Regions from separate parts of the Homo sapiens genome. Here region 2 is linked to region 1. Evidence: fine-mapped expression QTL. A gene starts in region 1. The other region holds a variant in brackets. All regions are shown on one strand. Distances are between the middles of the regions.

Region 1 (15,602 bases):
ATTGCTAAAAAGAAATTAAAGAAGACATAAATAAATGAAAGACATTCTGTGTTTATGCATTGGAAGACAATAGTGTTATGATGACAGTATTACCCAAAGTGATCTACAGATTCAATGCAATCCCTATTAAAATCCCAATGTTATTGCAGAAATAAAAGGAACCCATTCTAAAACCCATATGGAACCTCAGAGAGCCCCCAATAGCTAAAACAATCTTGAAAAAGAACAACAAAATTGAAGGTTTCATACTTCCTGATTTCAAAACTTACTACAAAGCTACAGTAATCAAAACAGTGTGGTACTGGCATAAGCACAGACATATGGGCCAATGGAATGGAGAGTCTAGAAATAAACCCTTGCATTATATGGTCAGCCTATTTTCAACGAGGTTTGAAATCAATGGGTAAACAACAGTCTTTTCAACAAATGGTGGTGGAAAACTGGATATCCACATGCAGAAGAATAAAGTTGGACCCTTACCTTATACCATGTACAAACATTAACTCAAGATGGATGAAAGACCTAAATTTAAGAGCTAAACTGTAAAACTCTTAGAAGAAAACATAGGGAAAATTTTTATGAAATATTGGATTTAGCAATAGTTTCTTTGGTATGACATCAATAACATAGACAACAAAGCAACCTACAGAATGAGAGAAAATATTTGCTAATCATATATCTAGAAAAGGATTAATAGTCAGAATATGTAAAGAACCCTGCAATTTAATAACAAAACAACCCAATTTTAAAATGGGAAAAGGAATTCGATAGACGTTTCTCCAAAGAAGATACTCAAAAACAATGCTCCACAATTTTAGTCATTAGGGTAATGCAAATCAAAATTACAATGGACTACCACTTTATACCTGCTAAGTTTATTACTATCAAAAAATAGAAAATAATATATATTAATGAGAATATGGAAAAACTGGAACCCTTGTGCATTGCTGGTGAGAATGTAAAATGGTACAGCCATCGAAACAGTTCGGTGGTTTCTCAAAAAAGTTAAAAAAAATAGACATATGACTCAGTAATTTCATTCCTAAGTATGTTTTATTTTTAAAAGAATTGAAAATGGTCATTCAAACAATACTCATATGCCAATATTCATATTATGCATTATTCATAATAGCCAAAATGTAAAAACAACCCAAATGTCCATTAACAGAAGAATGGATAAACAAAATAATGCTAGATATGAATATTACTCAGCTATAAAAAAATGAAGTTTTGATATATTCTACCTGGATAAACCTTGAAAACATTACACTGAATGAAATAAGACAGACACAAAAGGATAAATATTATATGATTACACTTATATGGGGTATCTAGAATAGGCAAAATGATAGAGACAGAAAGTAGAATAAAGGTTACCAGGTGTTGGAGGGAAGAGGAAATGGGAGATGTTGCTTAATGTGTACAAAGTTTCTGTTTGGGATTATGACAAAAGTCTGGAAATAGATAGTTACACAATATGGTGAATGTACTTAATGCTACTAAATTGTATACTTTAAAAATGGTTAAAATTGGCAGGGCACGGTGGCTCATGCCTGTAATACCAGGTCTTTGGGAGGCCAAGGTGGGTGGATCACAAGGTCAGGTGATTGAGACCATCCTGAGTAATGTGGTGAAACCCCATCTCTACTAAAAATACAAAAAATTAGCTAGGTGTTGTGGCACGCACCTATAGTCCCAGGTACTTGGGAGGCTGAGGCAGGAGAATCACTTGAAACTGGGAGGCAGAGGTTACAATGAGCCGAGATGACACCATTGCACTCCAGCCTGGGCAACAGAGCAAGACTCCGTCTCAAAAAAAAAATGGTTAAAATTATAAATTTTGGGTTATGTATATTTTGCTACAATAAAAAAGTGAAAAAATTAACATGACAGGGAAGAGTTGTGAAATGGTTTGAATTTGTGTCCCCACCCAAATCTCATGTCGAATTGGAGGAGGGGGCTGGTGGAAGGTGATTGGATCATGGGGGTGGATTTCCCCTGTGCTGTTCTTGTGAAAGTTTAGAAAATTTGCAGCCTGACCATACGGTAGTAAAGAAAAACCCATTTTCTGGACAGAAAGTCAAGCTGGCTGCAGAAATTTGCATGAGTGGAGCCAAATATTAATATTGAAGACAATGGAGAAAATGTCTCCAGGGCAGTTCAGAGACCTTCACTGTAGCCCCTCCTATCACAGGCCTGGAGGCCTAGGAGGGAAAAATGTTTCATGGGCCAGGCCTAGGGCCTGGCTGCTCTGTGCAGCCTCAGGACATGGCACCCTGAGTCCCAGCTGCTCCAGCTTCAGCTGTGACTAAAAGGGGCCAAGATACAGCTCAGACAATTGCTTCAGAGGGTGCAACCCACAAGCCTTGGCAGCTTCCATGTTGTGTTGGGCCTGGGGGTGCACAGAAGGCAAGAGTTGAGTTTTTGGGAACTGATATGGTTTGGCTCTGTGTCCTCACCCAAATCTCATCTTATAGCTTCCATAATTCTCATGTGTTGTGGGAGGGACCCAGTGGGAGATGATTGAATCATGGGGGCGGGTCTTTCCTGTGCTTTTCTCAAGATAGTTAGTGGGTCTCACGAGACCTGATGGTTTTAAAAATGGGAGTTTCCCTGCACAAGCTCTCTCTTTGCCTGCGGCCATCCATGTAAGATGTGACTTGCTCCTCCTTGCCTTCCATCATGATTGTGAGGCCTCCCCAGCCATGAGTAACTGTAAGTCCATTAAACCTCTCTTTCTTCCCAGTCTTGGGTATGTCTTTATTAGCATATTAGCATTGTGAAAATGGACTAATACAGTAAATTGGTAACAGCAGAGTGGGGTGCTGCTGAAAAGATACCTGAAAATGTGGAAGCAACTTTGGAACTGGGTAACAGGCAGAGGTTGGAACAGTTTGGAGGGCTCAGAAGAAGACAGGAAAATGTGGGAAAGTTTGGAACTCCCTAGAAACTTGTTGAATGGCTTTGACAAAAATGCTGATAATAACATGGACAATGAAATCCGGGCTGAGGTGGTCTCAGATGGAGATGAGGAACTTGTTGGGAACTGGAGCAAATGTGACTCTTGTTATGTTTTAGCAAAGAGACTGACAGCATTTTACCACTGCCCTAGAGATTTGTGGAACTTTGAACTTGAGATAGATGATTTAGGGTATCTGGCAGAAGAAATTTCTAAACAGCAAAGCATTCAAGAGGTGACTTAGGTGCTGTTAAAGGCATTCAGTTTTATAAGGGAGGCAGAGCATAAAAGTTCAGAAAATTTGCAGCCTGATAATGCAATAGAAGAGAAAATCCCATTTTCTGAGGAGAAATTCAAGCCTGCTGCAGAAATTTGCATAAGTAACAGGAGCCAAATGTTAATCCCCATGACAATGGGGAAAATGTCTCCAGGCCATGTCAGAGACCTTTGTGGCAGCCCCTCCCATCACAGGCCAGGAGGCCTAGGAGGAAAACGTGGTTTCATGGACCAGGCCCAGGATCCCTGTGCTGTGTGCAGCCTGGGGATTAGGTGCCCTGTGTCCCAGCTGTTCCAGCTGGCTAAAAGGGGCCAATATAGAGCTTGGGCTGTGGCTTCAGAGGGTGCAAGCCCCAAGCCTTGGCAGCTTCCACATGGTGTTGAGCCTGCAGGTACACAGAAGTAAAAAATTTAGGTTTGGAAACCTCCACTTAGATTTCAGAGGAAGTATGGAAATGCCTGGATGCCCAGGTGGAAGTTTGCTACAGGGGCAGGGAAGTCATGGAGAACCTCTGCTAGGGCAGTGTGGGAGGGAAATGTGAGGTCAGAGCCCCGACACAGAGTCCCTACTAGGGTACTGCCTAGTGGAGCTGTGAGAAGAGGGCCACTGTCCTCCAGACCCCAGAATGGTAGATCCACTGACAGCTTGCACCATTCGCCTGGAAAACCACAGACACTCAATGCCAGCCCATGAAAGCAGCCAAGAGGGAGGCTACATCCTGCAAAGCCACAGGGGCAGAGCTGCCCAAGACCATGAGAACCCACCTCTCACATCAGTGTGACCTGGTTGTGAGACATGGAGTCAAAGGAGGTCATTTTGGAGCTTTAAGATTTGACTGCCCTGCTGGATTTCGGACTTGCATGGGGCCTATAGTCCCTTTATTTTGGCCAAATTCTCCCATTTAGAATGGCCATATTTACCCAATGCCTGTACTTTCATTGTATCTAGGAAGTAACTAACTTGCTTTTGATTTTACAGGTTTATAGGTGGAAGGGACTTGCCTTGTCTCAGATGAGACTTTGGACTGTGGACTTTTGAGTTAATGCTGAAATGATTTAAGATTTTGGCGGGCTATTGGGAAGGCATGATTGGTTTTGAAATGTGAGGACATGAAATTTGGGAGATGCCGGGGCAGAATAATATGGTTTGGCTCTGTGTCCCCACCCAAATCTCATCTTGTAGCTCCCATAATTCCCATGTGTTGTGGGAGGGACCTGGTGGGAGATGATTGAGTCATGGGGATGGGTCCTTCCTGTGCTGTTCTCATGATAGTGAATGGGTCTCACAAGATCTGATGGTTTTAAAAATGGGAGTTTCTCTGCACAAGCCCTCCCTCTGCCTGCTGCCATTCATGTAAGATGTGACTTGCTCTGCCTTGACTTCCACCATGATTGTGAGGCCTCCCCAGCCATATGAAATTGTAAGTCCATTAAACTTCTTTTTCTTCCCAGTCTCACGTATATCTTTATCAACAGCTTGAAAATGGACTAATTCATGAACCTCCACCTAGATTTCAGAGGATGTATGGAAATGCCTGGGTGTCCAGGCAGAAGTCTGCTGCAGGGGCAGAGGCCTTATGGAGAACCTCCACTAGGTTTGTGTGGAGGGGAAATGTGGAGTTGGAGCCCCCACACAGAGTCCCCACTGTGGCACTGCCTAGTGGAGCTGTGAGAAGCAGGCCACCATCCTTCAGACCCCAGAATGGTAGATCCACCAACAGTTTGCACCATGCACCTGGAAAAGCTGCAGGCACTCAATGCCAGCCTGTGAAAGTAGCCACAGGGGCTATACCCTGCAGACCCACTGGGGTGGAGCTGCCCAAGGACTTGGAAGAGCATCCTTGCATCAGCATGCCCTGGATGTGAGACATGAATTCAAAAGAGATTATTTTAGAGCTTTAAGATTTAATGACTTCCCTGCTGAGTTTTGGATTTGCATGAGGCCTGTAGCCCCTTTGTTTTGGTCAATTTCTCCCTTTTTTTTATTTGAGATTGTGTCTCCCTCTGTTGCCCAGACAGGAGTGCAGTATCACGATCTTGGCTCACTGCAGCCTCTACCTCCTCAGTGCAAGCAATCCTCCTGCCTCAGCCTCCAAGTAGCTGGGATTACAGGCACGTGCCACCACACTTGGCTAATTTTAAAAATATTTTTAGTAGAGACAGGGTTTCACCATGTTGCCCAGGCTGGTCTTGAACTCCTGACCTCAAGTAATCCACCTGCCTTGGCCTCCCAAATTGTTGGGATTTCAGGTGTGAGCCACTGCACCTGGCTGCAATTTCTCCCTTTTGGAATGGTAGCATTTACCCAATGCCTATATCCCCCTTGCATCTTGGAAGTAACTAAGTTGTTTTTGATTTTACAGGTTCATAGGCAGAAGGGATTTATTTGTCTCAGATGAGACTTTAGACTGTGGATTTTTGAGTTAATGTTGAAATGAGTTAAGATTGGGAGACTATTGAGAAGGGATAATTATATTTTGCAATGTGAGCAGGACATGAAATTTGAGAGGGGTTGGGGTGGAATTATATGATTTGGATTTGTGTCCCCACCCAAATCTCATGTTGAATTGGAGGAGGGGCCTGGTGAGAAGTGATTAAATCATGGATCATGGGGGTGGATTTCCCCCTTGCTGTTCTCATGATAATAAGTGAGTTCTCACAAGATCTGATGGTTTAAAAGTGTATGGCACTTCCCCCTGCATTCTCTCTTTCTCCTGCCACTATATGAAGAAAGCACTTGGTTCCCCTTCACCTTCTGCTATGATTGTAAGTTTCCTGAGGCTCCCTAGTCATCCTTCCTGTTAAGCCTGAGGAACTGTCAGTCAATTAAATCTCTTTTCTTCATAAATTACCCAGTTTCAGGTAGCTCTTTATAGCAGTGTGAAAACTGACTAATGCAAGTTGAAAGAAAAAGAAGAGCCAGATAAAAGTGAGTGAGGGAAACAGAGCCAGGAAATCTTAGAAGTCCAGCCACCATATATATTTTTTGACACTACTCAGAAACAACAAACGGGAAAGCTTTGTGAAGTTTGAAAAACTGTCTGGACCAAATCTCCTTTTAAAAGTTCAAGAAAACAAAATTCATGTAAAAATGATCAACAAAAAAAATACTAAGGTCAACTCTCATATAGCTACTACAACAAAGTGAATAAAGATCATAATAACCTCCAGAAAGATATTCTCAAAAAAATTAAAGCTATAATGTCCTAGAAAAGCTAATACACACTGAGTGACATGAAACATGAAAGAACAACATACATCAGAATTAGAGAAACTCAGAAATTAGAACAGAACTCACAGAAGAATTAAACGTTTTATTTTTTATTTTTTTTTGGAATTAAACATTTTAAAAAGCATTTGAGAAATAAAGATTGACCTATAAGGAACACAAGAACACATAAATATAACTAATAAAAACTTAAAAGAAAATAAGGTAAAAAGGAGGGAAATTTATAAACTTAAAAACAAATGAAGAAAGAAATTAAAAAGATTTAAGGGAAAGTGACAAATGTTGAAGATAGACAAAAAAGGTTCAATATGCAGATAATAGAAGTCTCCAGAGAAGCAGTCTAAAGCAATCCAAAACAGAACAAATATTTAAGACTTTAATTGAAGAAAATTTTCCTGAAATTAACAAAATATATGTATTTGAAACCACATTTTGAAAGAAATACACACTGTTTACTTTCAAACTAGAATGACCAACAAACATTCTAATAAAATTACTGGATTTGAAAGAAAAAGATAAAGTTATTTGGGCATCTAGGCAAAGTGAGAAGGTGCCGTCTACAAACCAGAAAGAGGGCTCTCAACAGATACTGAATCTGTTGGAGCCTTGATCTTGGACTTCCCAGCCCCCAGAACTATAAGAAATAATGTTTCTTGTTTATAAGCCACTTATTTTGTGTTTTTTTTTTTTGTTGTTGTTGTTATAGCAACCCAGCTGGACCAAGACACCAAGTAGTTTGAATCCAACAAAATTGACCTTCAAGTAAAATGGCATGAACAAACTGTAAGCAACATGCAAGAACTCAGAGCATATTCTTTCCATGAGCCCTTCCTAAGGAATCTAGTAGAGGACAAGCTTTCAGACAACCAAAATGACTAAAGATACATAAACATAAGGAACTAATGGTAAGCATTAAATATATATTTGAACTTTAATTAGGATTAGAATTGTAGAACTGTAAAATTAAGACTAAATTAGGGTTAAATAGGAAGATTATGGTATAGATGGCTATAGAAGCTGATAATTTAGATAGAGTATAACTATAAAAGATGGATAGCATATGCAAAAAAAACTGTTTTCAAGAATCAAAACTGATGATGGTAGTATTAATATTGTTATTCTGAGATTATTATTATATGTTTAATGCAAACTAAAGCAAATTAGTAAATTGGGATATTCTAATTTCATCCTCCCTTTTGTCCTTGAGAACCAGAATTCTCTACATGAAAGAAAAGAGGTCCTAATGTAATATATGTTAAGTAAAAACTACAGTCCTGAAATTAAATTGGAAATAATATAAACTGATGAAAATATTATGAAGAATAATATTTCTCTAGAATATAAAAAAATGAAGTATTCTTTAGTAGCTCTGTCTATTGAAAAGGCCTAGAAACAGTTACCAACCTAGTAACAATGAATACTCCTAGTGCTCATATTGTTATCTTAAAATTTCAACAAAAGAAACTAGAGCTTCTGGCCAGGCGGGGTGGCTCATGCCTGTAATCCCAGCACTTTGGGAGGCCGAGGTGGGCAGATCACGAGGTCAAGAGATTGAGACTATCCTGGCCAACATGATGAAACCCCGTCTCTACTAAAAATACAAAAATTAGCTGGGTGTGGTGGCACGTGCCTATAATCCCACCTATTCAGGAGGCTGAGGCAGGAGAATCCCTTGAACCAGGGATGTGGAGGTTGCAGTGAGCCGAGATCGTGCCACTGCACTCTAGCCTGGTGACAGAGTGAGACTCCATCTGAAAGAAAAGAAAGAAAGAAAGAAGGAAAGAAGGAAAGAAGGAAAGAAAGAAAGAAAAAAAGAAAGAAAAAGAGAGAGAGAAGGAAGGAAGGAAAGAAAAAACAAAAAAACTAGAGCTTCTTGGAGAAATGGCTGATTCCAGGTTTGAGGCAGCAAATGTACAGATGTGCCTGGAACATCTTGTCATATCAGATAGCAAGGAAGCTATCAAAGACTTCTAGGGTCTTTGAAGCTCTTTGCACACTAGTGAGAGAGAGAGAGAGAGAAAAAAAAAAAGACTACTAGAATCTTATCAAAAGGAGCCAGGAGCCATATTGAAGAAGCTCCTACTGGCCAAAGATGGGACAATTTGAGCTCTAATATCGTAGATGGAAACCTATCAAATATATTTAAATTCATGAATTTATAATGATATTAAAGAAATCTAAGAATGACAGAGAATCAATTCCTTAACTTGAAAACTGGGTAATTTTTTTAAAAAAAAGCAGGTATTCATCGTGCCTTTCCTATCTCAGGGTAATCAAATAGTAGATGAGAGGAAGCATCTCCTTATCCACTTATGAACTAATAAATGAAAACAAAATTATTAGAATACCATGATTTTGCAAACTTCAATTAATTAATGAATCTAGGAATTGAGCATCGACGGCTGTTAACCTCAAAAAAGAGCAAACACCAGACATCATGATCATGTACCTCTTGAAGAAAAGAACACACAACCATCTATAATCTTACAAAAGACATCAAACTTCAGTCTGAGGAAGACCCTGGATCAGCTGCCAACTTGCTGTCAATACAGAGGACAGAGAAACATGCTGAATTGCCTCATGAATGTGCAACCCCCAGACTCTGGAAAACCTCACAGATCAAGGGCTTAAGTTATTTAACAAATAATTGTAAGGAAAAGACTGAAAAGGCAAATCAAATTAAAAAAAAAAAGAGTGGGGGGAGGGGTAAGGTGCACCCTTGGAAGATACCAAGAAAAACAAAAGCAGCAGAAGTGACTACATGAAAGTCAGGTTAGTGGTTACTTTTGGGAGGAGGGAGAAAGGGGGTTGTCATTGAGGTAGGGCACATGGAGAGGCTCCTGGGGTGGCTGGCAGAGTTCTATTTCTTGATCCAGGTGGTGATTACAAGGATGTTCCCTTTATAATAATTCACTAGTCTATATATCTATATATTTGTTTTTTGTGGTTTTCTGTATTTATGTTTTATTTTACAATTAAAAAATTTTTAAAAACACTCCTTAACCTGCAGTAAACAGTTTTTTTAAAAAAAACAAAAGAAGGTCCAAGTGAAGAGATCAGAAGCTATAAAATATTTCATATTGGGTGCAAACTAAATATAAAGCAAGCCAAAACCAGAAACACCTCCTCCCCCTCCCCTCCCCCCCCTCCCCTTTCCCCTTTTTTAATTTAAAGAACTTTGTAGGTATCTTCCAAACCAATGAGAGATTCTTAACACACACAAAGGGAGGATGTCAGAGGAACCATGGGGCTGAGTTGCACCACTGGAGGATGTCTGAAAAAAACTACATAGACAACCTTCCAGCACTAAAACTTTAGCCCCATGGTTCCGCTGACATCTTCATTTTACAGATTAGAAAACTGAGGCCCAGAGGCAGCCAGTGTCTCATGCACGCTCACGAAGCTAGCATCAGACCCCGACCTAAGGCCTAGGTCTCCCAGTGTAGGACTAAGACACGCACCAAGACAGTACCAGCCCGCTGACCGCCGCCTGCGAGGAGTTAACTGGGGCGGTGCAGGATAAGTGCGAGGGGGGCCCGGGTCTGGCGCTAGGTTTGGCTGCGGATTCTCCGCTCCGGACTCCGAGGCAGAAGGCGGGTGGGCGTGGCGGGAAGGGCAGCAGGTCCACTCCCCGAGCGCTATGCAAATGTCATGCAAATCAGTGCATGGGGGCTGGAGCGGGTGGTTTGAGTCCTGACCCCGTAGCGCCGCGCTCTCACTCGCTCTCCTCAGCGCGCGTCCGCTCTCCGCTCTCCCACTTGCTCTCTCTCTCGCCGGTTCGCTCACCCCCGCCCCGCCCCGCCCCGCCCCGCCCTGCCCAGTCCCGGACGCGCCTCGCGGGCTCCCCGCGCCGCCCGGTCGGCAGCAGGGCGCTGAGCGAGCTCGGAGCCCGCGCTGTGCGCCTGCGGCCGGGGCGCCCCGCCGAGCGCCGGTGCCCCGGCTCCCGGGCCGCCTTCGCCGCGCGGGTGAGTGAGCCCGCCCCATGCTTTTGTCCAGGCGCGGGCCCTGGAAGTCAAGGCTCCGAGGGTGGGAGTTCTGGGTGGGGGCTGGGACCCCCACCGTCTGTGCCTCCCGACTCCCCTAATGGAGAGGGGCCCCGGGGTGCGGCGAGGAGTCAGGGGCGTAAGGAGACGACCCCAGTGACGCCAGGCTGCACGAGTTTTCTTTTGGGGAGATGAAGTGCTTGGGGACACTGATGCGATTGCCTTTCTAGGAATCATCCGAAGGGGGTGCCTTTGATTTGAGGGGCGGAGGAGAAGCGGACCCTTCTCCCAGCTCCCAGACCCTCGCTAGAGGACTCGGTGACGGCCTCTGGGAAGGGGGTGCCACGTGAAGGTCCTTCCAGCCCAAATGTGATTCCGGGAAGGTAGGGCGGGGAAGGCGGCCCGCGAGTGCCAGACCTGGCCATCCCAGGCGAAGCTGGGGCGCGGGCTTTGCAGACTTGTTCCTACTCCATACTCCTCATTTAAGCTCCTTACCTCGCTCTGCCTCCTTCGCGTTAACTGGGGTCCCATTGTTGAGGGACCTTGTTCGCCGATGATTGCAGTTGGAAAGTTTTGGATAAACTTCTCAGGAGATGTGAGTTGTCAATGGTTGAGGTAGACCCCTCCCTGGAACTTATGGAACTAAAACCCTTCAAGACCCAAAGGACTGAATTTCTAGGAGTGGCATTGCAGATGTGAAGATGGGCTGATGGGGAAATGGTTTCAAGGATATATATTTTTTTTAGATTGGGGTGTGTGTGTTGGGGTGCGGGGCACTTTCTATTTCGTAGCCAGAAGGAGAAGACCCAGCTCTACTAGAGTCTAGAGGGAGTAAAATTAGCTGTTGTGATTCAGGGAGCTGGGTGGGTGTAGGGAAACACCTGGGCAGTGGGCATGATGCCAGACCTCAGGCCGTTGGTTTTTACCATCCCTCCTCTCCCCAAGTGCAAAGACCAGAGTATATGCAATGACCCGCCCACCCCACAGCCTTTGAGAGCCTGCCCTGGAGCTGCATCCCCCTTCCAAGAGAGGCTGTGTTCTTCTCCACCTGAATGGAATACTTTTTGTCAAAATGCACTTATCAATAAATTATTTCCAGATGGTGGGCTTAGGAGGACCATTTGGGGAACCCCGCCCACACTTCAAAGAATCAGGAATCAACAATGCAAGTCTCTGGGAGAAGTGTAGGTGCATCTGGTGACTTTACTAGGTTCCTACAAGGCATTTAGGGTTCTAATAGAACTGTTTTCTTTTCTCTTAAATTCTTGACCTCCTTCTCTCTTCCGTGATTCTCTTAGTCTCTTCCCCGCCTGCACACTGTGGGACTGTGGAGGATGATGCTGCTGGCACCACAGTGCTCTAGGGCAGCATGGAATTTTCCTTCCTGCCCAGAGTGAGGTTACCCCTTTTTCTCCCACTCTCAGTGGGCCAGGAGCCTTGGGTCTGGGAGGAACCTGAGCAGTTGGTCCTGGGTCCGGAGTGGTTGGACTCTGGATGCTGGATTGGGTAGCGGGTACTCTGGGGACATGCACAAGAGCTTTTTTTGCCAAGATGTGCAGGTCTGTCTCATTGTTCACTGATGATACAAAGGATGCTGGACCTCATTTGCAGCTAAGCATGAGCTTGGAGAACCACCCCACAGTGGGGAAGCATTTATGCTGGTTTATCTCCCATGTTCAGTTTCTTTTGTGTAATAACTGGCTAGCTGAGGAGGAGGGTAGCTGCAGCATTGTAGATGTTTCCTTGTCTTATTTTTATTTTTATTTTTTATTTTGAGACAGGGTCTGGCTCTGTTGCCCAGGCTGGAGTACAGTGGCGTGATCTCAGCTCACTGCAACCTTGACCTACCAGGCTCAAGGAATCCTCCACCTCAGCCTCCTGAGTAGCAGGGACTACAGGTGTGTGCCACCACACCTGGCTAGTTTTTTGGATTTTTTGTAGAGATGGGGTCCTACCATGTTGTCCATACTAGTCTAATGGGCTCAAGTGATCGCCCACCTCTGCCTCCCAAAGTGCTGGGTTACAGGCATGAGCCACTGCACCCAGCCAGAGTAGTTGCTGTTTGTGTGAGGTTTGCTCACCCCTTCATCAGGGGCTGCTTCCCCAGGGGCCAGATCTTAGAAAACATATGCAGAGCAGACTAGGCCTTGGAACATTCCTAGGCTAACTGGTAAGGCCAGGTGGCCCCACCTGCTGCCTGAAAATGGTAGACAGACAGCTACAGTCACTGCAGAGGAGGGGCTCCTGGCTGGCAGGTGGCGGGGGTAATCTGCTGAGAAGGCTTGTCAGAGAAGGAGGTGACCCAGATGGTGCAGAGGGGAGAGGCCTTTGAGTTCCAAGGGTGGGGAAAGGTTCTGGGTCTCTGGCTAGGGAGATCTTTGCTGGTCTCAGAGGCATAGATTGTGAATGCGCTGGGGTCACCATATACTCAGTGTCTTTGAGAATGACCCCTTGCTTTTATCCTCAAAATATAAGATGAGCCTAGAGTTTGAAACACAACTAGTTGGCTTGTCTGTCTTTTAGGAAGTTCATAAGGTGGGGTGGGGGTTTCAGAATGCAGCCTTGCTTGGGGACATGGGTACAGTGTCCCATGAGTATGGGGTGTCTTATTTAGTATCTTTCTGAGAACAATACTTGGGAGTCTGGAAATATAAGCCTACTTGGAAGCCCAGCTGCACCTCTCACAGCTCAAACCAACCCACACAGGCTGGGAGATTGTTCATTCTTAAAAGCTTCCTGTCCTGTCTTTTCAGCAAATGTAGTAAAATTTAGAAACAACACTTAAAAAGTATCCTTTCCCAACAAAAGACAATGTCCTCGCTCAACTTGGCCAGCAGAGGGTGCATGCAGAGGACATGAGGCAGGGCCATTTGCATGGAAAATGTCCATGTGGATGCTTAGGCCTGAGCAGGGTCTATTGGGTGGCCTGAGTGCTCAGAATCAAGGAACCGTCCAGCAGTGAGCCAGAGTGGGACAGAACGATGTCACTGTGATGAGCTCCTATGCCATGTGACTTCTATCTCTTCCCTGTGCTCCCCCAGCCTCCTACCTTACAAGCAGGCAGACATGGTTGTGCGGGGAAGCAGTGCCCATACAAGCCACGCCCCTCTCCCACCTGCACCATTCTGCAGATGGATTCTCTTTATTCTTCCTTGAGTTTTGGCTGCACACTTTTCCATTCGTTTGATGCCAACAGGTTGAGCAAATGCATTCCCCTCACAAACTCAAGGTGGGTGGACCTCCGTATTTGCACTGCGGGCCAACAGGTGCATCCCTCCTCCTTGTTGCATGCACCTGGTGTGTGAGGGCTGCAGCCCCCATGAAATTTACTGACAGCCAGCCCAGTCAGCTGGGGCAGGAGGAGAGCCAGCAACAGTTGCTGCCTCATGGGCTGGAAGGTAAGGCTGTGTTTCCAGATGCTCCCACCACCTTCTTTTCCCTGCCCTCCTGCTCACTGTACTTCAGTGTCTGAGGGTGAATGGGCACCCCACTAGGGAGCTGTGGAAATTTTTGTGTAGATCCAGCTTCTTAGATTTCCCACGTTGTCCCCATCCCCCCTCTGTTGGTACTTCCTTGCCCCCCTTCCACCCTCTGCTCCTCTCCTTCCCTGGGTCTTCAGTGCAGAGCCCTCTGGAGACAGAAAGCCCCTTTGGAGACAAAAGAAAAGGGATGAGGAGAGGATTTCCTTTTCTTTCAGACCTGCTTCTTGATTTTTTTTCCCTTGGCTCTGGGCGCTCAGATCTGATGCTAATTTGTTAATCCAGGACCTTATGGGTTATTTCTCATAATCTTTGGGGGAACCGAACACCTGCAACTTGGGGCTTTTATAGTTGAGGATGCTGTTTACCTTTCTTGTTTTCAGAGATGAGGATTTCTGATGTATAGTAGGTCTCATTCAGGTTTCTGGCAGGAGGAGGCAGCCAGGCAGAATGTGATCTTTGGTGTTAAACTTGGGTTCAGTTCCATCCCATTCACTTACTGGCTGGGTGTTCTTGGGCATGGGTTTTAACCTCTGTGAGCTGACTTGAGTTTTGTCATCTGACAATGAGGGCGGTTATAAAAATTAAATGAATATAGGAATATAAATAGGCACAAAACAAAGAATAGCTTTTATTATATATACCGGGCAGTGTTCTCCAGGTCTATATAATGACTTGTAAATCAACCAGCAGACACTAATGATGTCTACTTTCTATTGAGCTCTGTAGAGGCTTATAAAACAAAGGTAAATGTGGGCCAGGCACGGTGGCTCACGCCTGTAATCCCAGCACTTTGGGAGGCCAAGGCAGGTGGATCACAAGGTGAGGAGATTGAGACCATCCTGGCTAACGCGGTGAAACCCCGTCTCTACTAAAAATACAAAAAATTAGCCAGGTGTGGTGGCGGGCGTCTGTAGTCCCAGCTACTCGGCTGTAGTCCCAGCAACTCGGGAGGCTGAGGCAGGAGAATGGCATGAACCCAGGAGGCGGAGCTTGCAGTGAGCCAAGATGGCGCCACTGCACTCCAGCCCAGGCGACAGTGTGAGACCCCGTCTCAAGAAACAAACAAACAACAACAACAAAAAACAAAGGTAATGTGTCTATGCTAAGAGACTCTGGGTGGGTAGCAAGAGAGCTAACACATAGGTAATTAGAAAACAGGGACAACATGCAATTTCCAAGTTTCATTAACAGAATTAAAGGATGACAAGAAATTCAGGGGCTAGAGTGATGCAGGAAGGCCTCAAAAATGGAGAGGAGGAAGGGAGGGTAAGCATTTGCCAGGAGAGAGGAAGGCAGGAACATTTGGCTCCGGTGTCTGAAGGCTGTTAGCTCCTTCCTTGCTGGGCCCTGGCACAACACCTTTGACCTTGCAGCGCACTCCCAAACATGCAGGTGTGCTTGTCCTGAGGTTTATTTTGGGGGTGGTTTTCATTCTGGCCTTGTTTTCCCTCTGCTGCCAATAATATTTCTGAAACATCTGAAATTGTTTTATTTTATACTCGATCAAAAATATTAAGAGGCAATTGGGTGGCCAGAGTGAAAGCCCAGAGGCCCGTAGAAGACTTTTGGGTTTCTGGGGCTTTGTGTTCTCTTTTCATGCCTCATATATTGTAGCTCACTTCCTAGTTCTGGAATCACAGGGTGTTAGGACTAAGGGTCAGGTCCACTTGACC
Region 2 (15,602 bases), 190 kb after region 1:
GATGAGAACCTGAAATCCGCTAGCAAAGAAGAACTCAAGAAAGACGTTAAGAATGATGTGAACTGCAAGAGAGGCCATGCAGGGACCACAGATAATGAAAAGAGATCAGAGAGCCAGGGGACAGCCCCAGCCTTCAAGCAGAAGCTGCAAGATGTTCATGTGGCAGAGGGCAAGAAGCTGCTGCTCCAGTGCCAGGTGTCTTCTGACCCCCCAGCCACCATCATCTGGACGCTGAACGGAAAGACCCTCAAGACCACCAAGTTCATCATCCTCTCCCAGGAAGGTAAATGAGCATGGGGGTTGGGGAAGAAGGGGCCTCTGTACCAGGGCCACTCCTAGCTCATGGAGCGTTGGTCTCGCTGACCCCTGTTAGCAGCCCATAGGTAGGCTGCTAACCTGGTTTAGCAGGTAGGAGGGCCTGCTGGGTAGGAGGGCCGCGTCCCTGTTTCCTGCTAACTCAAGGATAGGTCCCGGCTCAGGGGCCTTGGGTACATGCACCAAGGCTGGGGCTAAGGGCTGGGATCCTGGTCCTTGTGGCACATGCCCACATCTCGGCACCCATCTGGCAGAGCCCTCTCATGGCACCGCCACCTGTGGCTCCCCAGAGGAGACCTGAGCCTGAGTTAATTCCAAGCTCCGGCATGGAGAGGGCTCTGTCTACAGGCTTGGAGGTGGGGGACACAGAGGCTGGAGCCAGGGAGAAGCTCTGAGTAAAGAGCTGTTTAGAGAAGCATCTTAGGTTTGGGGAACGGTGTGCAGTGACCAGATGGCACGGAGCTCTGAGTTGGGGTCAACAATAACTTCAGTCTTGATAGCACTGTGGGTTTGAAGGGATCTGTCGGGAAACCCAAAATCCCAAAACAGCCCCTACAGCACACACTCACGGGCAGACAGAGCTACTCGCTTCCTAATTTGGATGAGACTTTTGTTTGCTGGTATTTCACATTCTTGGATGGTGGGGAGAGGAGGGGGGCCCCAAATCCTTCCATCTGTGTGGACTTTTGGGGTCTGGAGTTTTCAGAGGAGCCAGTTTATACTTGGAGAAGAGATGGGGGTGACACAGGAGTATTTTCTCTGGACCCTCAATTTGGTTTGAAGTGCTTTTGTAAATCCCAAGTCTGGGTGGGAGCTCTGAGGCCGGCCGACCTCCACACCCCATTCTGGCAGCCAGCGGAGGGATAGGTTGCCAGCACAGAACAGAGTCCTGCCTGAGCTGATGCTGGTGGCTCCAGACAGGGTAGGGTACAAAGAAGCTCCCAGGAAGTGACATTTCACCCTTGAGGGGCAGAGGGCAGCCACAGAAGAAGCCGGAGTGGACAGGTCCTGTCAAATCTGAGTCAGCTGAGGTGTCAGAGTGCTCTTCCTGTGGGCTGCTCCCCTCCCTGGCCCCTGGCAGCACCCTCCCCACTCCCTCCCTCACCTTTTATCGTGCCTGCCTTCCCCTCACAAGCAGAATGGAGCATTTGAAGATCACAGAATCCCTCTCAGCCCCCGGTAAGGGTCTGTCTTCCCTCTACATCTGGGACAGCACACCTGGAGCAGCTGAGTATATTGAATCTCAGCGCTGAAAGAGTGAAGGGGACACTGGCTGGCAGAGAGAAACATGTTATTTTCTGCTAATGTGTTGACGCAGTAACTTTTCCATGTGGATGTCCTCAGATTGGCAGGGTCCTCCAGAAGTCGTCTCCTCCATCCCCCACCTCTGCTGGCTCAGCCCCCCTCCCCTGAGGCATGGGGGATTATTGGGCTGGGGTGAGACTTCAGAGGAGCAGACGCCACAACCTGTCCTGCCGCCCCTGTGGGGCTCTCCCACTTGGAAAGTCCTTGGTAAAACTGATTGGAAACCCTGACTGGGAACATTTCCCAGGTCACCCTACGGTGATCTCTCCAGGCAGGATGCAGGGTGGCATCCACCATCCTCAGGACAAGGTTGGGGCTGTCCCCTGGCTCTCTGATCTCTTTTCATTATCTGTGGTCCCTGCATGGCCTCTCTTGCAGTTCGCATCATTCTTAATATCTTTCTTGAGTTCTTCTTTGCTAGTGGATTTCAGGTTCTCATCAGGCTTGGCGCTGCCCATGGGCTTCAGGGTCTCAGCAGGTTTGGCGTTGGGAGGTCTGTGGCTGCTCCAGCCTCAGGGAAACTGAGGTTAAGTCAGTTGGGGGCAGCTGTTCTTGGGCTTGCATGGGGTTTAAACCCAGAGCCATCAACAGCCACTTACAAACAATTCACTCAACTAAGCGATGTAAGGCAGACCCCAGGCCTGGTCTCAGAAACTCTTCTGAGCCATTAGCCACTGTCTTCTCGTGCCCTGAGTGCCTGCAGTATGTTTTCCCTGCTGGTCCCTTAGTGGTAAAGAGCCTAGAGATCCTAGCCACTCCAGCCTCCCTTCCCATGGAAACCGTCCCAGAGGGAACAGTTCAGATCCAGAGCAGCAGCAGAAGAAATGATCCAAGGAAGGCTGCACACGAAGGGGAGAGAGAGACCAGGAGAGGTGGAAAGGGATTCCAGAGAGAGCCCCAAATCAAACTGTAAGACATCTTCTAAATATTTTTAAATTGTGTTTAAAGAATAGCTGACATATGTTGAACACTATGTGTTAGACACTATCTTAGGCCTCTTACACTTTTCACCCATTTAATCCTCCCAACAATGACTGTACTGTCCACCTAACAGAGAAGTTAAGTACCTTGCCAAATGCAAGGTGCTGGGGGTAACAGAGCTGGGATTTGAACTCAGGTGGCTGAGTTCCCGTGCCTAGACCACCGTGCTATATGACCTCTTAGTTAATTCCTATTATTTTATCAGGGTACTGGTGGCAGCTGAGAATTTGTCTATCAACAGAAAACACTAATGACTATTTACTCCTCGATTTTGTTAAGAGTTGTCCAAAGGTTGAAACACTGATGGTGCCCCTAGCCTTGCCAGGTTTCTGGTATTTTCCCTGCAGTGGTGGAAGCAGACCTTGCAATGGGCCTGTCTTGCTTCAGTACAGGAGAGTGCGTTGTCTCAAAAAATCGGCCCCACCTTCTGTCCCTTCACTCGCCAAGACTTCAAGAGCCCAGTGTTTTGTTAAGGAAAAAACTTATCTTAAGGCTTCATCTATCAGTCACCATTTAAGCAGGTCCCTCCTCAGGCAGTAGGGCATTCTGAGAGGTGGAGGGAGTCTTTTCTCAATAGATGTGGAAGGAGAAGACACACTCACAGTGATAAAATTGTTACAGCCAAGTGCTGACAAGTGCTATGAGTGTGTCGGGAGGAGCTGCTGGAAGTGGGAAGAGAGGGAGCTGAGTGCTGGACTTTGATCTAAGCCCCGAAGACAGGCCAGAGGGGACGGGCTTCCAGGCGGGGGCCCCGCAGCAGCAGAGGCGTCCTGCTAACAGCTTGTTCTGGGCTGGAGAGGATGACATGGCCCCAGTTTCATCCTATATTCTGCCAAGGAATTCCAGTCTAAAGGCAGTAGGGAATCATGCAAGATTTTGGGATGAAGAACACTGTACATGAAGCTCAGTTTAGGGGTTTTGGTGGACTCTGTGCCCAAAAGACAAATACAGAGCCTACTGAAGAGGTCGAGAGGAAGATGGTGAGGCCTAGACTAGCGTAGTAGCCACAACCACAGTCAGGGAATGACCAGTTCAAGAAGCAAGGATAGAAGTAATGGCACCTGTTGCCTGGCTTGGAAGGGCAGGATGGGGGTGGGGGTAGGTAAAGAAGATGAAGGAATGGAAGACCACTAAGTGTGGGTGCCTGAGTGGCTGGGGTCTCAGTGGTCGTGTCAGTGGGAATAAGGAAGCCGGTGGTTGGAGGAGGCTTCTAGGGGAAGGTGAGGGAATGGCTCCGCTGGCCTCCCGTCCTGCATCCTTCACACTCAGCTCAGCACTGGCCCTGCCCCCGGCTTCCTGACTTGGAGCCCTTTTTGCTCCACTGCACTGATCCCCACCCTGTCAGCTCTGCTACAAACAAGATTCACTTCCTCCAGGATGCCTTCCTGTTGTCACCCACCTTTGGCCACGAGAGACTCTTGCACTGTCCCCTCCCCATCAACCTGTGTATCTGCGTGCACCAACTGCTAGTGGACGTGCTGTTTATAGGTTTCAGGGGACTTCTCTGATGTCTGTAGCTTAGATAGGGCTCATAGCCCACAGACCCCCACCCAAACAGGATTACATCACCCCATTTAGTTCACCCCCTTTCGTGCTGAGGAAAGCAGAAGAGGTTTGACAGCCATGGGCTAGAGTTCACCACTAGTTGATTTGTGGCAGGACACAGACACGTGGAGGTGTCCTTCCTCTTCCTGTACCCCTAGAGCTGCAGGGCTGATGGGATTCAGAGTTACCACCAACTGGGCCTGCCCTCTGCCCCCAAGTCTTTTCCTAGCCCTTCCGGGACCTGCCTCTGCTGAGGGGTGGTGGGAGGCCGATGGTCCCGTGAGCTGAGGGGAGCTCTGTGGTGGCCTGAGAAGAGCTTTATCTTTATGCTTTGTTTCCTGTCTCCAGGCCAGGCTCCTCCTCCTGGCAAAACACTTTTCCGAGTCTAACAATGAGGATTCATTTTTGTTGCTGTTGTGAATAGGTAATTCATTTTTAATTGCCTTCAGGGTAGAATTTTGCAAAGGCTTTTTAAAAACCCATGTAAGTTCATCCTACGAAAAATGGATTTATGCAGCATCTACTATGAGCAAGGCATTATTCTAATGCCCTTTGTTGTGTGCATAATCCACTCAAAGAACTCTGAATTTTCTTTTTTCAGAAACTATATATTATCTTTTTCAATAGTAAGTTATATTTAACTGTTTGTGACCTTTTCTTACATAGATCCTACCAGATCACCTGCTACAGAAATATGCCTTCATCCTTCTCAGAATGACAAATATGTTTTACTGTGACTGCATTCCAGGCTTAGGAAAAACAGTGGTGTTAGACAGGGTCACTGCCCTCTGAGAGCTGGTGTGGGAGACAGGCATGCAGGTCAGCAATGGCCTTGTGAGCCGTGCTTTGACATGGGTGAGCTCAGAGTTGGGAGCACAGAAGAGGTCCGCCTAGGCCTGGGGGATTAGGGGGAACAAGGAGGACACCATGCCTGCAGGGGTGACCTGGAGATGAGTCTTACTGTCTGGGCTTGCCAGGTGGGCTGGGTAGGCTGACTGAGGCAGCCCTATAGCAGAGCCTCCAGGAAGCTCCCTCCCTCCATCCACATCCCCTTCCTCCCCTCTGCCCCCAACTCAGAAAAGGAGAGAGCTGGGGGAGCTTCAGACCCAGGAGCGCTTACTCCACCACAGCCCTGAGGGGCTCTCCCAGGCGGAGCTCTGCAGTGATGCTGACCTCTCCCATCCCCCTCATCTCCCTCTCAGAATTCCCCACCAGGCTGAGGCTTCTCAAAAAAAAACCTCTGGGAAACAGCTTTTCTTCTAGAGGTCAAGAATGAACTGTCCCACAGGAAATACCAGATTCTTCATCTGGGGTAGCCAAGCCTGCAAGCCTGCTAGGGGGGCCTCCCCAAGCCCATGCACATGGCCAGGGGTCCAGGCTCTGGGCAGGTTGGAAAAGCTGCCTGCCCCATGCCTTGCCCTGGGAGAGGAGGCAGGGGCCGGGTCCACATGCCCCTCTACTCTCTGTGTACTGTCTTTGCAGCTTGTATCATTTTGACTTAAGACTCAAGGCAGCTGAGGGACTGAAACTGAAAGAAAATCAAGGATTTGAACAGGATGTGCGTTGGGGGTGGGATATCTGTTCCCAAAGCCTTAGCCCCACCCTGACTTGAGGGAAAATTTCCAGATGGGATTGGTCTCTGCTAAGCCTCTGAGCCCCTCTAGTTGGGGCCAGAGGTCATCTTGGCATCCTCCCGCCCACCCAGATGAATGGAAAGTTCTCTCTCCAGGACATGGTTATCCTCATTCCCCACTCCTGTGCCTCACGATTCTTACTCTTATGACAGACTTCCTAAAATTCCAGCCTAAATCCTCTCCATTACAGTTTCTACAAATTCTGACTCCTAACTACAAAGGGAAGAGAACAGAGTGAAGCCTTCCCGAGGTTTGGGGTCTGTATAAGGGTATAGGAAGTGGGGAGTGGGGTGCAGATCAGCCCTCTTGCCC[C/T]AGGTGGTTTATAGGATGAAGGTTTCTCTGTTTAAAACAGTACCCTGGTGGCAAGGAGTAAAGGGGAATATTACACCCTTCCTTCCTCTTCCAGCCTTAGTGAGGTTTTCTGGGCAGAACTGATATCCTTACTCTTTCTAATCTCCTTGTATTTGCTGGTCAAGGCTGTGCATTTGTGTAATGGGGGGCAGGGACAGTAGTTGGTGTCCACTCAGAATGCACCCAGCTCTTCCCTCCCAATGCCAGTGGCTTGTGGGACATGAGATGGGAGCTCCAGGCAGCAAAGTGCATGTGGCCCTGGCTCTGTCCTCCTGTGTGACGGTTGCTTCCCTGACAACAGGGGCAGCTTTGAGCAGGATGCCCTGCTATTTACTTGTTTGTGCATCTGAAAGCAAGAATAAGGAACTGCTGCCCTTCTGCCTGGCCCAGCAGGCCTCTTTCCACACCCTGAGGGAACCTCCCCAAGGGGTGGCCCAGAGGAGAAGTAACCAGTTCTGGGATGAGAGAGCTGGCAGGGGCCAGGACGAGACCCTAGATTCCTGTGTGTGCCTAGCTGACACCTCCTTCCCCAAACCAGGCCAGAAGATGGTGCTGGGAGTGAAGGCAGGCCCAGGGGAGAGTCCATGGAGAAGAAAGGCCATCCCCACTTCTCTCTGGGGCAACCAGAAGACCCAACTCCGAAGGGAGGCAGCCCCAGAGGGCCCCTCTGCAGGTCCAGTCCCCCTCATTGGCCGTGGTTCTCCAGCTCAGACACCTTTCCTAAAAAGTCAGCTCCTGGGTGTAGTCACCACCTCCCAACAGATCTTCCCACAGGCCGGTGCCCCTCCTGGACAAGGGCTCCTAGCCTCCTCCACCCACTTCTTTGCTCAAAGCTTCAAAGCTCCCTTTTCCAGAATGCAGTCACAGCATCACTGCTGTAAACAAAGTGGGACCTCCTCACCTGTCACTGTTCCTAACACAGGTCTGTAACCCTGTGTCGGACTCCTTTTCTCTCTTGGTGACGTCCAGGGGGCAGGGCCTGTGTGCATCTCCTTGTATTGTATTGGATGGTCTCCAAAGGCAGAGGCTATTTCTCTCCCTTCTTTTGCAGCTTTCTATTATGTCCCCACAAGAGGACTCTTTGGAGTGGGGGAGGAGGTATCAGGAAGGAACGTATTTAGGGATCAGTTATTTTGGACATGGGTTATAAGCAGAAAGTTCCCTGGCTTTGGTGAGGAGTGGGGGATTGGTTCCCACAAGGCCTCTGGCTTCTGGGCTCCCAGAGGCTGCCCGTGCGAGTAACACTCACCTGCTGCGCTCCAGATGCCAGGGCAGGTACTACGACCACACCTGGTTCACTCCACAATTCTTCCTCCCCAGGCTCACTCTGCTCCGTCTCCATCGAGAAGGCACTGCCTGAGGACAGAGGCTTATACAAGTGTGTAGCCAAGAATGACGCTGGCCAGGCGGAGTGCTCCTGCCAAGTCACCGTGGATGGTAGGTCGTGCCCACCCATCGCCGCCACCCATACACAGGGGTCCCATTTCTCAGCCCCTCCCTTCCTTACCATACCTTGCCTGTCAGACAGAACTGCCTCCAACACTGCCCTCCCTACCCAAAGGCATTCATTTTGGATGAATGAATATCTTTTGCCAAAAGAAAAAGAGACAGGAAGGAAAGTGGCAGCTCTACTTGATCACCTACATGGCTTCACCCCTCCCCTGGCTGTCCTGTCCCCCTCCCAGTCCTGATCCCCACACCCAGAACCTTCTGAGCTGGGAAGCTGGGGCACTGGGCAGTAGAAAAGACACACCCACAGGAAAATGACTACAGAGTATTTTACAAAAGCCACAACAAACAAGTGTCCGAGCTGGCAGGACGACCCAGCAGGGTCAGCCGTGAGGAGGAGGGAGCAGAGCGAGGTCCGTGTGGGAGACTTCCTAGAGGAGGTGAGTCGGGGCTGAGTCTCTGGACAGAGAGGACAGGGCAGCCTCTGCCAAAACAAAATGGTAGTAGTAATAATAATACTGCAGAGGGAGGTGGGAGGACACATCGGGGAGAAAGCAGGCCTGCCAGGTCTTAGCGGAGTTTCTGTGTTAGGAAGAGGCAGTGCCAAGCTGCGAGGAACTGGGCTTTGTCCTAAGGAAATGCAGGAAGTGCATTCATGACTCTTTTTTCTCTCCTTCCTGGGGAGTATAGAATTGGAACCTGAGAAGTAGGATGAACCTCGTGATGATTTAGATGAACACCCTCATTTTACAGATAAGAAACTGAGGGCATCCAGAGAGGAAATGCATTTTGGAGGGGGGCTCTCTGGCCCATTTAGGGCCAAGCTGGGGCCAGAACCCCATCCCAGGACTCACAACCCAGGATCATTTCTTTGTATTTGGCACTTACCTGGAAATGTCTCAAAAGGTAGTTTTGGGGAAATAGTTTCTTGCCCTTGAAATGTCTGGTTAATAACCATCAGAGACACATCAAAAACTAGTGTCCAAATAAGGCATCTTGAAGCCCAGCTTGGTTGTTCTTCTCCCTCCTGTGTGTGATCAGTTGAGTTCTGAAGTCCTAGCCCGTCTCACTGCCATTCCACACCATGTAGAGCCCGTGTCCTCATTCTGGACTTTACAATTGGTTTCCTGATCACAGAGCTGAGCTCTATGGAACATGATGAATGGGAGAGAGGTGGAAAAGAAAGTCTTTTTTATAAAAACACAATGGCAGCACGAATTAATTGTTAATAGCCGAAAGGTAAGCTGAACTCATCTAATACTGTGTACTTCTCCTTGGAGATCGTGCGTATATGTGCTATAGGGGCTCTGAGTCTAAGGAAGCGGACTTGATGTGTCCAAGTTTATGCTCAATTCAGAGGGGGCATGGGACACATTTTGAGGTTCTGCACAGTGGATGCTGTGGCTGATGACTCCTGTGTGGGAGTCTCTCCTCACCCAGGCTGTCACCCACCCAGATCACAGTCCTGCTTCTTTCTATACAGGTGCTGCACTGTAAAGTATAGCGTTTCTGAAAACATGATCCTTGAAGCCCACGTCTAACACCCCTCTGCTCGTTTGGGACTCACACTGGTTCCCGAGCTAGTGAAGGAGGTTATCGGCTTTCGGAGCCTCTTTAGGTCCTGTTTACATGGCTAGCTGAAGGCAGGAGAGCAATTCATTCTCCCTATCTGTAAAATGTCAGCACCTTTTCTAGATTTGTTTTCAAGATGAAATTTCCTTTTCCCCTACTGAATACACTTGGGGATTTTTTTTTTAAGGTTTGGGGAATTCATTCTGCAACTTAAAAGGCTTTGTTTGCCCAGAGTCTGCTGGCAGATTCCCTTGTCCTCTCCACTAATCTTGATGACCATCATTATTTATCCCTAATTCCTTCAAATGCAGAGTTAGGCCTCCAGCTGCAAATTGGGAGCTGGGTCTTGGAAGAAGAGCTAGAAAAGTGATAGGAGGGAGCCCAGCTGAGATAACAGGACTGACTCTCAGTCCATTGGGTTTGGTTTTGTTGACAGAAAGGATAAGGGTGGCCTCTTCCCCCTGCTTTTCTTTCCCTGTTGCTATACTTACAGATATATTAGCATCCTGTTTGCCCACATTTAGCTTTATTTTTTCATCAAGAGCCTCTCTAGGAAAGTAGTAAAGGACTGTTGTCACTTTGACAGCTCCCCTGTCGCCTTTCTATCGTCTGGTGCTCCACCCCACTGGCTAGGCTACATCTCCTGCCCTCATTCTGTCCCCTCATCCCCTCAGCTCTCCCTACTCCCCAAGGCATCATACTTGACTTGGGGATCCCAGTGGGTTTGTGCCTCCCCTGAAATTACAGGCAAAATGTTGCATTATGTGGGTTGGAGCATCTTTCTGAAGAGAGGGGTCCATAGTTTTTAGTCAAATTCTCAAAAGGAGTCATGAATCAGAATACGTTGAAGAACTACTTGCCGTAAGCAGCAACAATGACTGAATTTTCAAGCCCAGCCATTGTGTGGGCTCTTCCAGCCTGTCTCCAGCTGCAACTGCCCACCCAACCTCTGCATAGAACCAGGCCTTCATCCCTCTTATGGGGCAATGAGGTCCATCTCCACTAGGCGATGGGACTACAGCTGGTGCTGACTTCAGACTGGCTTCCCCAGCCACTCAGCAGGGCTGGCCTGGCCCCTGAAAGTCGCTATCATTCACTCATCCTGTGCCAAACACCATCGAGACCATACATCTGAGGCCAACATATCTTTCAAAATCTCATAAAAATGAGGCAAATGGGGCTAAAATAGCATTACCCACACTACTGATTCCCTCATATCATAAAGATAAGGGATGTAACCTTTATAACACAGCACAGCTGGCTATTTTAATCATGTGTTTGGGTCTTTTTCCTAAGAAAAGGGGTGTTTATGAACTTGCTTGATTATGGTCATATCACCCTTCCTTCTGAACTCAGCAGAAGACAAGGGTTAACTTGTGCCACATAGAAGGGAGCTAAAACCTAGAGTAAACGTGGACTTGCCCGAAAACTCACCCAGGAGGAGAACAAGCTGACCTTCAATGCCTGTCCTGGCCAGAGACTCTTGTGCACTTTGCATTTTCAGTCTATGCAACAGTTGGGCAGGGTGTCTTTCTCAGTGAGCAAACTGAGGCTCACCAAGGGTCAGCTGCCTTCCAGGCCCCACAGACAGTAGGTGTAGATCTGGTGTTGGGGCTCCACCCTGCACAGTGAATTACAACATGAAATATCCTGGCAGGACTCAGTGGTCTGGCTCTGAAACCTGTTCCTTTCCACAGCCTGACACAGCCTCCCCGGGCAGTGAATTACCATGGTGGGGCCCGCTCCCAGAGTGATCCAGACCTCCCTGAGTAACAGTCCTCCCTGTGGGGAGGTCCTTCTGCACGTGGGACTCAGTAACCCCTTTCCTCTCATTCCAACCCAGATGAGCAGTGAGGAAACTAAGTCCTTCCTAGGCCAGAATCCCATGAGAGGACTCAAAAAACACCTTAGCCCCTCACTGGCTCATCCAGTCATTCTCAACTCAGGCCTCCTGTCCCCAGCCACCCTGGCCAGGGCATCCAGCTTTTGGTACCAGTGAGACCAGGGCTTTGTGACCACAGAGGGTCATGCATGATTGTGATGGGAAGGGACACTCCAGTGGGTACTCATGCCATCACTCAGTCATTCAACTAATATCTGAGTGCCCACTCTGTGCCAGGCACTGCCATAGGAGCTGGTTTTAAAACAGTAAATGAAGTAGGAAAAGTTCCAGCTTTTGGGACTTTTCTAGTGGGAAAGAGGCAGTAATGCAGGTGAACAGCTGTGTCATATCCTCAGGTAATGTCACCAGCTATGAAGAAAGCAAAGCAGGGTAATGGGGGAGAGAATACCATTTTTGGAGGGGGTGGTCACTGAGGCCCCTCTGAGGAAGGAACATTTGAACAGAGACTGAAGGAAGCAGGGAAGGAAGAGGGACAAGGTGACAACAAGAGCATAGCCCTGAGCTGAGGACACTGTGCTTAAGGCGTTTCAGGAGGCAGGAGGCCAGGGTGGTGGAGCCATGAGCAAGGGGCAGGATGGTAGGAAGTGAGGTTGAGGAGGACCGTGGACCAGATCCAGGCAGTGTTGGCTAGGACAAAAAAAATGAGATTTTATTCTAAGTGTTATGGGCCAACACTGGACATTTATGAAGGATCACTCATGTCCATGTGATGACCAGACCCAGGATGAGTCAGAGGGAAAGCAGGGAGCACAATGGGGGGTTGCCACAATAGGGACAGGAAGTGATCAGATTCATAACCTCTTTGGCTGTAGAGCTGATATGAGTTGCTGGTGAGCTGGGTATGGAGAGAGAGAGAAGTTAAAGATGACTCAGTTTTCATGGGGGAGTGAAGACCAATGGTGGGGCTGGGGGGCACGATCAAGAGTTTAGTGCATGTGAAGTTTAAGATTGCTATTTGACCTCTCAAGCGGTCCTGTCACATAGGCAGGTGTTTAGGTGAACCTGGAGTTGAGGGGGAGGTCAGAGTTGGAGGTGGGATACAGGGAGCCATCCACACACAGAGGCCATTCACTGCCCTGGGGTTGAATGAGGTCCCTGGAGAGTACAGAGGTGGCTATAAGAAGAGGGAGAGAGAGAGAGGCAGGGGCAGGACAGGGGCCTGCGAAGAAGACTAAGAAGGAAGTACTCCAGTGAGATGGGAAGAAACCCAGGAGATGGGGGTGTCCCAGAAACCAAATGCTAAGAACTTCAAAAAGGAAGGAATGATCAAGATTAGTGTGCCAGGCCAGGTGTGGTGGCTCACACCTGTAATACCAACACTTTGAGAAGCAGGTGAATTGCTTGAGCCAGGAGTTCAATATCAGCCTGGGCTACATGGTGAAACCCTGTCTCTACAAAAAATACAAAAGTTGCCTGGATGCTGTGGGGCATGCCTGTAGTCCCAGCTACTCAGGAGGATGAGCCAGGAGGACAGCTTGAGCATGGGAGGTTGAGGCTACAGTGAGCCAAGATTGTACCACGGTACTCCAGCCTGTGGGACAGAGGGAGACCCTGTCAAAAAAAAAGAAGAAAGGAAGAAAAGGAAGAAAGGGAAGGAAGGAAGGAGGGAAGGAAGGAAAGGAAGGAAGGAATGAAGGTAGGAAGGAAGGAAGGAAGGAAGAAAGGAAGGAAGGAAGGGTCAGGTGCTGCTGCCAAATAAAGATGAGCCTGAGCACTGGCTATTGGGTTTGCCAACATTGAGGTCATTGGTGACCTTGCAAGAGGGCTTCAGGGGAGTGATAGTAACAATAGCCTCATCTCAGGCAAACAGAGACTGAGTCACCTGCTCAAGGTCACCCTAACTAGCAGAGTGGGAAGTTAAACCCAAGCCTTGGTGCCTAACCACTGTGATCCACTGTTATCTTGGCCCCTGGGCACTTCTGATTATTGCTGAGCTGATTTTGATCCACCCCTCCTTTCTTGGCCTCAGCCCTGCCATATTACTAAGTCTGCTCCCACCCCCACATTTATTTATTTATTTATTTTGAGACAGAGTTTCACTCTTTTTGCCCAGGCTGGAGTGCAGTGGCATGATCTCGGCTCACTGCAACCTCTGTCTCCTGGATTCAAGCCATTCTGCTGCCTCAGCCTCCCAAGTAGCTGAGGTTACAGGCACCCGCCAACACGCCCAGCTAATTTTTGTATTTTTAGTAGAGAAGGGGTTTCACCATGTTGGCCAGTCTGGTCTCAAACTCCTGACCTCAGGTGATCCACCCGCCTCAGCCTCCCAAAGTGCTGGGATTACAGGCGTGAGCTACCGCGCCTGGCCCACATTTATTCTTTAAATCATCACAGACAACTAACGGGTATTATGTGAAACTAAATAAAATTGCTGTTTTTGTAGGTCAAAAACACTTCAATACTGGCGAATGGTGTAGTTCAACCTGATCTGAGCATACAAAGTACTTAGCACCGTGCATACATGGAGTCAATACCCAGTAAATGTCAGCCATCACCTTACGACTTGGCCACACCTCCCTCACTCTTCTATTGAGGTGATGTTATTTCGGTTTTCCTTGTGAGGAAGCTCAGACTCAGAAAAGTTCAGGAACTTGCCCAGGGACTCACAACTCCTAAGCAGCAGAGCCAGAAAGCGCAAGCATCCTGATCTCTCTTCCTTACTACGCTAGCACACTGCTTGCACTCAGTCAGAGAGAGAGGCCAGCAAGGAGGGATGAGCCAACCCAGGGAGAGGCTGGAGCCCAGCCCCTCTGCCCTGCCCCACTGGGGGCCCCTAGAAGCTGGACCCCTCCCAGAAGCTTCCCAAGACCTCATGCCCCCTGCGTGGGGTCAGAGTTCAGGGAACCAGCCTCTTGGGGGAGATTAAAAAAAAAAAAACGCTGCCCAGAGAGCTTGAGTCCAGAGCCCAGGAGTGGGAGGGGTGAGGCATTGTCTATATAAGGACACATTTTCCTCTCAATGTAGAGGCCCCCCACTTCCTCACACCTCCATCTTCCTCCCCCACACTTCTTTGGGGACACAAGCAAAGGACTTCAGCCTTGGGGGCCTAGATCTAGAAATGGAGTTTAATTTCATCACAAAATGATTAAAATAGAAAATACAAGCTGCTCTTAAACTTATATTACTATTATTTTTATCCCCTGGGCAGCCATGTGAGCACAAAGCTGGTTTTGATTAGGCACATGGCCCTTCGAGCCCACTCCTTGCTGCAGTTCGCATGGAGGTCTGCTGGCTCCGCATCCCTGGCAGGGCCCCGTGGTGCATGCACAGCCCCACCGTGCTGACACTTCAAGTGGAGCGCGGCCACCCCCTGGGGCTCCGAGTCTGGGGTGTGCCTAGTTTGAAAGGGGGACTTCAGCCCCTTTCCTCATGGCCAGATGGAAAGATAAAGTGCTGCAGAAACTTCTAAAAATAAGACTCAAAGCACATTACAGGGTAGTGTACTGACACGTCCAGTGAAAACCCAGCACCCTAGGGCCGAGGACGGAGGCAGAGGCAGATGGGGCAGGGCAGGGAGTGTTTTCTGAAGGTGGAAAATTTTAAAGCTGATTCAGAAGGAGGTAAGGGAATGTGGCTATCAAGAGGAATTAATTCATAAGTGATCATTTTCATTTTCTTTTTTTTTTTTTTTTTTTCATTTTTTGGAGACAGGGTCTCACTCTGTCATCCATGCTGGAGTTAAGTGGCATGATCACTGCAGCGGCACGATCATTGCAGCCTCAAGCTCTGTGGGCTCAGGTGATCCTCCCACCTCAGCCTCCAAAGCAGCTGGGACTACAAGCACATGCCACAGTGCCTGGCTAATTTTTGTAAATTTTGTAGAGACGGGGTTTCACCATGTTGCCCACGCTGGTCTTGAACTTCTGGGTCCAAGTGATCCAACTGCCTTGGCCTCCCAAAGTCCTGGGATTACAGGCGTGAGCCACCACGCTGGGCTGATAAATGATCATTTCCTGCTTTCCAAAACACCGTTGCATGTGTTCTCTCCTTTGGGCGTCAAAACACCATGAGGTAGAGAAAATAAGTGATTCCCTTGTACAGATGTGGAAACAGAGATGGGACAGTTTAAATTATTTGCCCAAGTTCCCAAGGTTGCTGATGACAAAGCCAAAGCTAGAGCTGTACTCTCTTGGCCTCTACTGTGGTGATGCTTGGAAGTAAAGCCCAACACAACCCCATGAGGACGAAAGGAGTCTCAGTACCTGCTGCCCTTCTTTCAGGAGCCCAGGAAAACTGGGCCTCTCATACTTTGCTTTCTTGTGCCTCAGCTTACTCATCAGTTAAAAAAGCAAACCTGATCCTTCTTCTTCTCCCTCCTCTATGCTCCAAGACTCACCAGGAGAATGAGTGCTGAAGCCAAGGAGTGCAGAACTGCATACATAGTCTGCCCTGTACTCCTCTTCCTTAAGAAGGGCCGGGTGCCGTGGCTCACGCCAGTAATCCCAGTACTTTGGGAGGCTGACGCAGGCAGATCACCTGAGGCCAGGAATTCAAGACCAGCCTGGCCAACATGGCGAAACCCCATCTCTACTGAAAATACGAAAAAT

What was found.
Region 2: its variant is fine-mapped to the expression of MYLK in whole blood (INTERVAL, PIP above 0.99).

What each region holds. Positions count from the first base shown.
Region 1 is chr3:123,879,033-123,894,634 of GRCh38, reverse strand. MYLK (myosin light chain kinase) reads left to right here and starts at 10,303. Exons shown (of 34, transcript NM_053025.4): 1 at 10,303-10,429. It also overlaps a transcript of CCDC14 not described here. RefSeq lists a silencer at 10,264-10,423.
Region 2 is chr3:123,684,701-123,700,302 of GRCh38, reverse strand. MYLK (myosin light chain kinase) reads left to right here. Exons shown (of 34, transcript NM_053025.4): 18 at 1-283; 19 at 7,452-7,568. It overlaps MYLK-AS2 (MYLK antisense RNA 2), which reads right to left and starts at 10,659. Exons shown (of 3, transcript NR_046629.1): 1 at 10,587-10,659; 2 at 8,469-8,726; 3 at 7,896-8,064. LOC105369194 (a long non-coding RNA gene) reads right to left here and starts at 7,487. Exons shown (of 3, transcript XR_924417.4): 1 at 7,381-7,487. The variant C/T (reference allele first, on the strand shown) is at 6,093.